Regions from separate parts of the Homo sapiens genome. Here regions 1, 2 and 4 are each linked to region 3. Evidence: fine-mapped expression QTL. A gene starts in region 3. Each other region holds a variant in brackets. All regions are shown on one strand. Distances are from middle to middle.

The links. PIP is the estimated chance that this variant, and not a neighbour inherited with it, causes the effect.
Region 1: its variant is fine-mapped to the expression of FASTKD1 in CD8 T cells (CEDAR, PIP 0.95). The same link has a PIP of 0.9 or more in iPS cells.
Region 2: its variant is fine-mapped to the expression of FASTKD1 in blood mononuclear cells (TOPMed, PIP 0.96).
Region 4: its variant is fine-mapped to the expression of FASTKD1 in monocytes after LPS (Fairfax 2014, PIP 0.95).

What each region holds. Positions count from the first base shown.
Region 1 is chr2:169,596,761-169,599,517 of GRCh38, forward strand. All of the region lies in intron 1 of PPIG (peptidylprolyl isomerase G), which reads left to right. Among named protein-coding and RNA genes, the nearest start is that of PPIG, 14 kb to the left of the region's middle. The variant CTTGTTTGT/C (reference allele first, on the strand shown) is at 1,095.
Region 2 is chr2:169,772,659-169,775,415 of GRCh38, forward strand. No RefSeq gene overlaps it. Among named protein-coding and RNA genes, the nearest start is that of SSB, 25 kb to the right of the region's middle. The variant T/A (reference allele first, on the strand shown) is at 1,076.
Region 3 is chr2:169,572,304-169,574,803 of GRCh38, forward strand. FASTKD1 (FAST kinase domains 1) reads right to left here and starts at 1,562. Exons shown (of 15, transcript NM_024622.6): 1 at 1,366-1,562. RefSeq lists enhancers at 1,144-1,313, 1,169-1,771, 1,674-1,773.
Region 4 is chr2:169,921,740-169,924,496 of GRCh38, forward strand. It overlaps UBR3 (ubiquitin protein ligase E3 component n-recognin 3), which reads left to right. Exons shown (of 39, transcript NM_172070.4): 12 at 2,190-2,255; 13 at 2,345-2,434. Among named protein-coding and RNA genes, the nearest start is that of UBR3, 96 kb to the left of the region's middle. The variant T/C (reference allele first, on the strand shown) is at 1,536.

The DNA.
Region 1 (2,757 bases), 25 kb after region 3:
GCAATCTCAGCTCACTGCAACCTCTGCTTCCCGGGTTTAAGCGATTCTCCTGCCTCAGCCTCCTGAGAGTAGCTGGGACTACAGGCATGCGCCATTACGCTCAGCTCACTTTTGTGTTTTTAGTAGAGACAGGATTTCACCATGTTGGCCAGGGTGGTCTTGAACTCCTGACCTCAGGTAATCTGCCCACCTTCGCCTCCCAAAGTGCTGAGATTACAGGCGGGAGCCACCACACCCAGCCCACATATTCTTTATCTGGTAATCTGTTGATAGATACTTAAGTTACTTCCAAATCTTGGATATTGTAAATAGTGCTGCAATAAACATAGGAGTGAAGATATCTCCTTGATATATGATTTCCTTTCTTTTGAGTGTATACCTAGGAGTGGGATATGTTATAATAATTTTTAATAGATAATATATTCATGTGGTATAAAATTGAAAATATGAGGTTATAAAGTGAAAAATCTTAGCCCTCTTTTCCAGTTACCCATTTTCTCTCTCCCTAGATGCCTTTTTGTTAAGCAAATACATACTTGTAAAATTTAATTTAATTTTGTTTTTGGAGATGGTCTGAGGCTGGAGTGCAGTGATGCTACCATAGCTCACTGCAGCCTCAAAATCCTCGGCTGAAAGAGTCCTCCCACCTGATCCTCCTGAGTAGCTAGGACTGCAGGTGCACGTCACCATGCCTGGCCCCACTTTCGTTTTTCTCTCGTTTTTCTTTTTTCCTTTTCTTTTCTTTTTTTTTTTTTTGAGACAGAGTCTCACTCTGTCACCCAGGCTGGAGTGCACTGGTGCAATTTTGGCTCACCACAACCTCCGCATCCTGAGTTCAAGCAATTCTGTGCCTCAACCTCCCGAGTAGCTGGGACTACAGGCGTGCGCCACCACATCCAGCTAATTATTTATATTTTTAGTAAAGACATGGTTTCGCCATGTTGGCCAGGCTGCTCTCAAACTCCTGATCTCAGGTGATCCACTTGCCTTGACCTCCCAAAGTGCTGGGATTACAAGCATGAGCCACCACGCCCAGCTCTCTCTTCTTTTAAAAATATACAAAGACAGTATATCCTACACACTTCTGTACCTTG[CTTGTTTGT/C]TTGTTTGTTTGTTTGTTTGTTTGTTTGTTTGAAATAGAAACAAAGTTCTCCCTATGTTTCCCAGCCTGGTGTTTCAATCCTTCTGCCTCAGCCTTCCTAAGTGCTGGGATTATAAGCATGAGCCACCATGCCTGGGCAACCTTTTTTTTTTTTTTGATACAGGGTCCCACTCTGTCGCCCAATCTGGAGTGCCATGGCACAATCTCAGCTCACTGCAACCTCCGCATCCTGGGCCCAAATGATCCTCCTGCCTCAGCCTCCCAGGTAGCTGGGACTACAGGCATGCATCACTATGCCCAGCTAATTTTTATATTTTCTGTAGAGACGGTTTTGCCATGTTGCCCAGGCTGGTCTCAAACTCCTGGACTCAAGCAATCCACCTGTCTCAGCCTTCTAAAGTGTAAGCCACTGCATCTAGCCTTTTATTTTCTTTTTCTTTTTTTTGGAGAGGTAGTCTTGCTCTGTCGCCCAGGCTGGAGTGCAGTGGCGCGATCTTGGCCCACTGCAAGCTCTGCCTCCCGGGTTCACACCTTTCTCCTGCCTCAGCCTCCTGAGTAGCTGGGACTACAGGCGCCTGCCACCACACCCGGCTAATTTTTTTGTATTTTTAGGGGAGACGGGGTTTCACCGTGTTAGCCAGGATGGTCTCGATCTCCTGACCTTGTGATCCACCCAAAGCGGCCTCCCAAAATGTTGGGATTACAGGCATGAGCCACCGCGCCTGGCTTATTTTCTTTTTCATTTAACAAAATAAGTTAACATTTACAGATTTTAGGAAATAGTTCTCCCTATCTTGGAGACAGCAGTAAATGAACAGATTTCTCATTCTTTCTAATAGCTTTGTACTTTCTACAGGTATACAGTGGTATACCTGATTTATATTTATTAAATTATTTTGTATTATATATCAAATTATATATACATTTATCAAAGTATTATAAATATTTATATTTATATAAATACAGGTAAATATTTATATGTATATAAATACAGGTAAATATATTTATATAAATACAGGTAAATATATTTATGTAAATATAGGTAAATATTTATATTTATATAAATACAGGTTTATATTTCTATAACCTGTTCCTCCTTTATGGACATTTAGGTTTACAGCCTTTTACTACTACAAATTATGGTACATTGAATAACCTTGCACATATCTTATTTTGCGAATGTGTAAGGATGTACATAAAGTAAATTCCTAGAAGTGGAATTACTGAGTCAGAGAGTCTTAAATGCATTTGTAATATGGATATTTGTTGTCAAATTGGCAATCAAGTAATTCTATCAGTTTATCCCTTTACCAGCAGCAACAATAAATGAGGTCATTTTTTATTTTTGTCAATCCAATTGGTGAAAAAATGTTACGTTTGTAATTTTAATATGTAAGATTATGATTTCTCATAGATAGTATTTCATTTCATGGGGGTATTTTTTAAGTAATTCTTACTACTGTACAATTATCTTTTTTCATGTGGCATTTAACACATTTTTTCATGTTATTTTAAAAAGCTTATTTTCTTAGGCAGTCCATCACAAACTAATTTACTTAACTATTGTGTTAGACATTTAAGTTGTTTGTGCTTACTGTTATTTAAAAAAAAACCCAAGGACTATTTTATTTTAAATGGTTGCCTTTACAGATATT
Region 2 (2,757 bases), 200 kb after region 3:
AATTGTTAAATTTGTAAAGAATAAACTGGGAAGGCCGCATTCAGCCCATCATCTTCCTAAAACCTGCATGGGGAGACCTATGTTTGAAGAACATTGCCTATGATTAAATGGAAAGAGATCCAGAATTGGGAAGCTCTCTTATCTGCAAATGTAAGCAACATGCTTCAACATCAGCTGTCACCAGTAATGAAGTGACATTTTAATCACCTGTCTGCCTCTTTTGTCTTATTTCCTAATTGGCTTAGAATTTGGGTGAGGATGAGGAGTGTCATTTATTGCTATAAGATCCAAACACACATCTACGGGTTTATCCTACAGACATACTTACATATGTATGAAGTTACATGTGTACAAGGTTATTCATTGTAGCACTGTTTATAATACCAAAAGACTGAGAGCAATCTGAATGTCCATAGAGAGGATTATTTAAATAAGACACTGTTGCACAATGGACTACTATGCAGCCAAAAATATTAGTAAGCTCCAAGATATATTAAAAAAACAGAATCACAAAACAAAAGGTACAGAATTGTGAGTATAGTATGCTATAAATTGTGCAAGAAAAAGAAAAATATATAAATATCTGCTAATACCTTCATAGCATATTTCAGAAATAATATATAAGAAATTGGTCAGTTTATTTATTTTATTTTGCCTCCAGGGAAGAAAACTTGGTACGTAGGAGCATTTTCTATTTGATACTCCCTAAAGTCACAGAAATCATGGGTGAGTGCAAATTCAGAGCAGAAATCCTGTGTCTGAAAGTACTATTAAGTACCTGTATCTTTCAAATCTTGTTAGTAGATGGTTACAAATTAATTACTCAATCTTTCTGTCAAATCAAAATGCATTTGTACTTATTTAGCTAAGGTGTAAAGTGAAGTGATTATTATAATTTTACTTTTTTTAAAACTTAATTATGTTTCATTAAATTAGCATATAATTGAGTATCTAAATGAAACTTTCAGATAAATAGAATAAAAACAGAGGTACAAGGAGAGTTGCAGTACATGGCAAGTTTCATCGTGAAAAGTTTTTTATTTGCCTTATTTTCATTTACTCAAAAAAATACTTA[T/A]TGAGAGCCTCCTCTGTGCCTTGCTTTAAAAACTCTGGGAAAATGGGAGCAAGACACTCTCTTTTCTTAGTATGGCCTACTCTAGTAGGGGACACAGATAACAAGTAAACAAGCAGGCCAGGCGCAGTAGCTCACACCTGTGATCCCAGCACTTTGGAAGGCCAAGGCAGGCAGATCACCTGAGGCCAGGAGTTCGAGACCAGCCTGGCCAACATGGTGAAACCCCATGTCTAGTAAAAATACAAAAAAATTATCCAAACATGGTGGCACACACCTGTAGTCCCAGCTACTTGGGAGGCTGAGGCATGAGATCGCCTAAACCCAGGAGGTGGAGGTTGCAGTGAGCCAATATTGTGCCACTACAACTCCAGCCTGGGTGACAGAGGAGACCCTATCTTAAAAAGAAAAAAAAGTAAGCAGTAAGCTAATTTTTTAAGTGATAGTACTAAAAGACAATAACACAGAGCTATGACAATACAGAGTGGCTAAAATGGGAGAGGAGGAAGGATTATTTTTTCCCAGTTGATTTTCGGGGACAGATACAATTTATTAAAGAAGCATGTATGATATGCCCCCCGTGCCTACTCCTGTTGTGGGCACTGGGCATAAAGCAACATAGAAGGTTAAATCTTTGCTCTCAAGAAGCTTAAGACATTCCATTGATACAGACTGACAATAAACAAACAAGCAAATTGATATTTAATATGCAGAGTCAGATTTACTGTGATACCCCAGGGAGGGCTGGTAATTGCTGAGGGCCATAGAATGTTCTAGGTGGCAAGTGGAAGCCAGGTTGCAACAACTACACATTTTTACATAAGCATTTCTAGTAAATTGCCTAAATAAATCCTAGAAGGAAGAACTGAAGCTCCAAGACTCCAGCAATTTATGATTTATTTTCACATTAATATTCACTTTCATACTTAATTTTTATTTATTTTTATTTTTTTATTTTGTTTTTGAGACGGAGGCTTGCTCTCGCCCAGGCTGGAGTACAGTGGCGTGATCTCGGCTCCACTGCAAGCTCCGCCTCCCAGGTTCACGCCATTCTCCTGCCTCAGCCTCCCAAGTAGCTGGGACTACAGGCGCCTGCTACCATGCCTGGCTAATTCACCGTGTTAGCCAGGATGGTCTCGATCTCATGACCTCGTGATCTGCCCGTCTCGGCCTCCCAAAGTGCTGGGATTACAGGCGTGAGCCACCGCGCCCAGCTCATACTTAATTTTTAATTGCAATTTTTATATTTTGTTTCTTTAAAAAATGCCCCCCCATTATAAAAACTTCAGGCCCCACAAAATTTGTATGTTCCCATAATAAGATATCAGGTGGTAACAAGTTTGTTTTTTGTTTTTTGTTTTTTGTTTTTTTTGAGATGGAGTCTCGCTTTGTCCCCAGGCTGGAGTGCAGCGGTGCTATCTCAGCTCACTGCAACCTCCACCTCCCGGGTTCAAGTGATTCTCCTAACTCAGCCTCCCAAATAGCTGGGACTACAGGCGCTCACCACCATGCACAGCTAATTTTTGTGTTTTTAGTAGAGAGGGGGTTTCACCATGTTGGCCAGGATGGCCTCGATCTCTTGACCTCGTGATTCCGCCCACCTCAGCCTCCCAAATTGTTGGGATTACAGGCGTGAGCCACCATGTCTGGCTGGTAACAAGTTTTATGAAAAAAAATCAGAATGA
Region 3 (2,500 bases):
ATTTGATCAAAAAATAAATGTCCAGAAAAAGGGGCTTCTTTCTGCACCCCATTTTAAAAGTGTTTTAAATCTGACATTTACATAAAGTTTTCAAATTTACCATAAAAGGAAAAAAAAAGCCCACAAACTCAGAGCTGTCTTTTCGAAAAAGAGGAAAATTGTTTAAAATAAATAATCACCTTCAAAGTTTCTAAAAAGTGTAGGCATTAATTCAGAGCCATATATATTTATACATACATATATATATACTTTTTTTTTTTAATTTTTCAGAAGTATGGTCTCAGGTTTATTTGCTTTCAGGATAATTTCTTGCCCCTTTTTCTTGTGCCCTTAAAGAGCTCAAATAATTCCTTTCTTTAGAAAATAAATAAATAAAAGAAGTCATATAATTTAATCATTACTGGCCTTGGATAGGTTTTAACCAATGAACGACACAATTAAAGCACCAATCAAGAAATACTAAGAAATTAAGTAATGTTTCAAGTCATGCTGAAACAATAAAAGAACTAAAGATAATTATGAAAAAAGAATAATTTGTTTTAAAAATATGCTATAAATGTTTACATTTATAATTGAGAAGTAATGGTTAGAAAAGCAGGGACTAAAGTCATATAATCTAATATTTCTGCAACATGTTACCATTTACAAAGAACGTTTGAAACACATTATCTCATTAAATTCTCTCAGCTAACCTTCCAGGTTGATATTATTTCCATTTTACAGATAAGGCAAAATAGGTTCAAAAAGGTTTAAAAAATCCTTCTAGTACTAGTGAAGCAGGGACTACAACTCAGTTCTTTCCACTTGAACAGCTTCATTACACAAACAAATCAACGCTGTATCACTAAATTCATGTCTCAGACCCCTCTCTACGGCTATGCCAAACAGTCTGTTCACAAGAAAAAACGACGCGACAGTACAGGCTATTTTGTGGCAAGCAGTACAGCATCCTGACCTAAGCTGACCTGGGTCACAAACCTGCACAAGAAAACCCTGCACAAATCAAAGGTATCCTCAAGATACTATATTCATCCACTGAGCTGCTCAAAGTGGAGGCAGCTCAATGGTTAGCATAGAAAGGTGTCGAGTCCCCAGCTTTGCCCCAGCTGAATGACCTTAAGGAAGGAACTTAACTACAGGAAGGGCCTTGGGACCCTAAGGGGTATCTTCTGCGCCGGGCATAAAGGAGAGCTAAACAAATGAGTGAATGAATGGGGTCTCAGCCCTGCCCTAGTCCATCCGCACTTCAGAGAACCCAATATCCCGAAGGAAGCCTCCGTATCTCAACTGAACCCTATGTCCCCAGCCCGAAAACGTGCTGGGTGGGAAAAGAAAAATAGCCGCTGCCACACAGTCCCGACTTGCCAGCAAGGTTTTCCCTCAGCGCGCCGCAAATTTTCTGGAGGATCCTGGGGTTATGAAAGCTCAGAAGTCAGGGTTATTCCTGGTCCCAACACGGAACGAAACAGGCTCGGATGTCTCGCCCAACCCTCATATCTCAGGGTTTATAACCTTTCTTCGAGAGACATGACCTTTCCCATGAGACCTTGCCCCCAAACCAGGAAAAAATGCCCGGCAGGCGCAGCGTGCACTGCGGAAGTCACGCACTACATATCCCAGGGTGGGTCGCGGCGAGGTGGGTGAAATGGACGTCGCTCACGCATTTTGGGGGAATTCTGGGCATTGTAGTTCCTCATTGAGGGAGGCTCTAGCGCAGTACACAGCTTAAGCTGTTGAAGAAGATATAGGTCGTTTAGGTGATTCTCTACTATCTAAGGTTGTTCTCCTAGTCCTTGGAAGTCTACTACTTTTATAATATACACAAAAATATACTTAGGAAAATGAAATTTAAAAATGTAAACATGGAAAAGACACGTACAGATTTTTCTTATTATTTTTTAGCATATACGAAATAACTCTGTCGAGTAACTTTGAAAGTATGCAAACTCATACTCTCAGTTTCTGCACTTATGTCGTGGATAGGTACCAGTTCTCAGACCATATTTTTTTTTTACTTACCATGGTATTTTAATAGTCCCAAGATTTGACACTTGACACTTAAAAAAAAAATACCACTAATAAATAACCAAAGTGGAATGCTTACCAAAGTTACAACAGACATAATTTTCAGCTGATAATCACTACAACAAAGTAAGGCTCTAAAGGTACCAAACTGATATTTGTTGGAATATGCTGTGCAACTTTCTTTTTTTTATTTTATTTATTTATTTTTTTTATTGATCATTCTTGGGTGTTTCTCGCAGAGGGGGATTTGGCAGGGTCGTAGGACAATAGTGGAGGGAAGGTCAGCAGATAAACAAGTGAACAAAGGTCTCTGGTTTTCCTAGGCAGAGGACCCTGCGGCCTTCTGCAGTGTTTGTGTCCCTGAGTACTTGAGATTAGGGAGTGGTGATGACTCTTAAGGAGCATGCTGCCTTCAACCATCTGTTTAACAAAGCACATCTTGCACCGCCCTTAATCCATTTAACCCTGAGTGGAC
Region 4 (2,757 bases), 350 kb after region 3:
CCAGCACTTTGGGAGGCCGAGGCAGGTGGATCACTTGAGGTCAGGTGTTTGAGACCAGCCTGGGCAACATGGTGAAACCCTGTCTCTACTAAAAATACAAAAATTAGCCGGTGTGGTAATACATGCCTGTAGTCCCAGCTACTCAGGAGGCTGAGGCAGGAGAATTGCTTGAACCCGGGAGGCAGAGGTTGCAGTGAGCTGAGATCGCGCCACCGTACTCCAGTCTGGGGGACAGTGCGAGACTCAAAAAAAGGGTCTGCACCTAGGCTGGGCCTGGTGGTTCACGTCTATAATTCCAATCCTTTGGGAGGCTGAGGCGGGCAGATTGCATGAGCCCAGGAGTTCGAGAGCAGTCTGGGCAACATGGCAAAAACCCTGTCTCTACCAAAAACAGAAATTAGCCAGGCATGGTGGTGTGTGTCTGTAGTCCCAGCTGCTCAGGGGGCCGAGGAGGGAGGATGACTTGAGCCCGGGAGGTGGAGGTTGCAGCGAACTGTGATCGTGCCACCATACTCCACCCTGGGCCACAGAGTGAGACCCTGTCTATTTAAAAAAAAAAAAAAAAAAAGAGTCTGCACTTATCCACTGTGCTTAGTGCCTCAAAGGAAATTGAGGGAGATTCTGACTTAGCTAGTTAGTGTAGAATATGTTACTAAGGCGATTATGGTAATGGAGGGCAAACTTTTTAAAATTTTATTTTTAATTGTGGTAAAATACACAGAAAACATAAAATTCACTATCTTAATCATTTTTAAGTGTATAGTTCAGTAGTGTTATGTGTATTTGTATTGTCGTGCAGCCAATCTCCATAACTTTTTTATCTCATAAAATTGAAACTATACTCATTAAATAGCTACTCCCCATTTCCTCTTCCCCCAGCTTCTGGCAACCACCATTCTACTTTGTATCTCTACGAATTTGGCTGCTCTAAGAACCTCATATAGGTGGAATCATATAGTTACTGTCTTTTTGTGACTGGCTTATTTTACTTAGCATAATATCCCGAAGGTTTATTCATGTTACAGAACATTGTTAGACTTTCCTTTCTTTTTATGGAGGGCAAACTTTTATTTATTAGAACAAATTTTTATAGCCTTTACATATTGAAGAGGATATTATTATCTTACTGGTTTTGAAAAAAATAATTATTTCAGGGATGGTGACATATTTAGACTCCTTATAACCTCTATAATGTAAATTATATACATTAGCATAATTATCTGAATGTCCGGGATAAACATTTTTAACAAGAGAATATTTAATAAGAACTTAAAAAGCATTAAAAACAAACAATACCTTTTCAGTTCTTAACTCATTTGTTTAAGAAGGACAGCTGTGGTGTATTTTTGCCCTGTAGTGATTTTGTGATCCATGGGATTCACAGATTTAAAATACAGTTTTTGTAATATTTACAGGAATGCCTAAGGTCATTCACATATTTTTTATGAAGTTTTGTTATGGAGGCTGGTGCGTTTGGTACTGTTTGGAAGCATCTTATCTAACTGGTGAAGGAATCTAACGATGCCCTGCATTTA[T/C]ACCTCTGTTTAGGGATGTGGTCAGAGTCTTCTTACAGTTTTGAATATGACAGTGGAGTCCAGATTAGCTCCCCAGTTCACTACTTTTGAACTTTAGGAAGTTAGTTAAGTTTTCTAAGTTTGAATTTTGCTACTTGTAGAATGAGAATATTAGTAGCTCCTACCCCATAGCATTCTTCTGAGGATTAAATGTGGTAATGTGAATAAAGTGCTTAGCATGGTGACTGGCACATAGGAAGTGTTCAATGAATGTTATATGTGACTGTTATTACTGTCATGATGTTTGGTATACATGCGTTTGAAGAGTCCCAAATGGTCTACTGTAGCTGGAAATCCATTCCATCCCTTGTTTTAATAATAATTATTTGCTTTAGCTGAATTGAATTTAGGAAATATTAATCTGTACTGGATGCTTCAGAGGATTCAAAGTTGAGTAGAATACAATTTCTGCCTTCAAGAAACTTATACTTAAGTGTTTAAAATGGAAAAATTTTATCTATAGTGATTTTGGAATCTGCATCTTCTAAAATGTTAAGTTTTGAACTAAAAGTATAGGAATAAATCCAGGTGAGAGTATGGTTTAAACATTTTACAACCATCTTAAAATTTCTATAAAATAGTCTTTGACTTGTGCATTTTGTTTGTTTATTCCAGCCAGCACCTAACCAAGTCACTTTTCATCTGCCACTACATCGTTACTATGCTATGTTTTTGAGTAAGGTAAGACTGTCATTAAACAATTCTGTTCTTTTTTTTTTAATTTTCAGAAATAAGAATTGAATTAGTAACTTTTTTATTGTAATTTTTAGGCTGTGAAATGTCAAGAACTAGATTTGGATTCTGTTTTACCAGATCAGGAAATGTTAATGAAACTAATGATTCACCCACTCCAAATTCAAGTATGTATTCAGGCATTTAAAAAGTTTTGAAGTGGATTCCTTGTTTAAGTGATTCTTCCTTTATTTATATGCCTTTCATTGTTATTATAGCTGAGATGTTTGAAAACTTTTTTTAAAAAGTTGTTATTGTATTTTTGCTAGATTATGTTTAGGTATTTTTCATTTTATGAGATTTACTTTTTAGTTTTACTTTTTCCAGGAATTCTTTTCATGATATTTGCTTATGGGGTGGTATTTAACATACTATATAGCACTGTTTTGGGAGTCAGGAGATCCAAAAGATTCTAGCCTTGGTGCTACCACTGTTTTATTTTCCGCAAGGT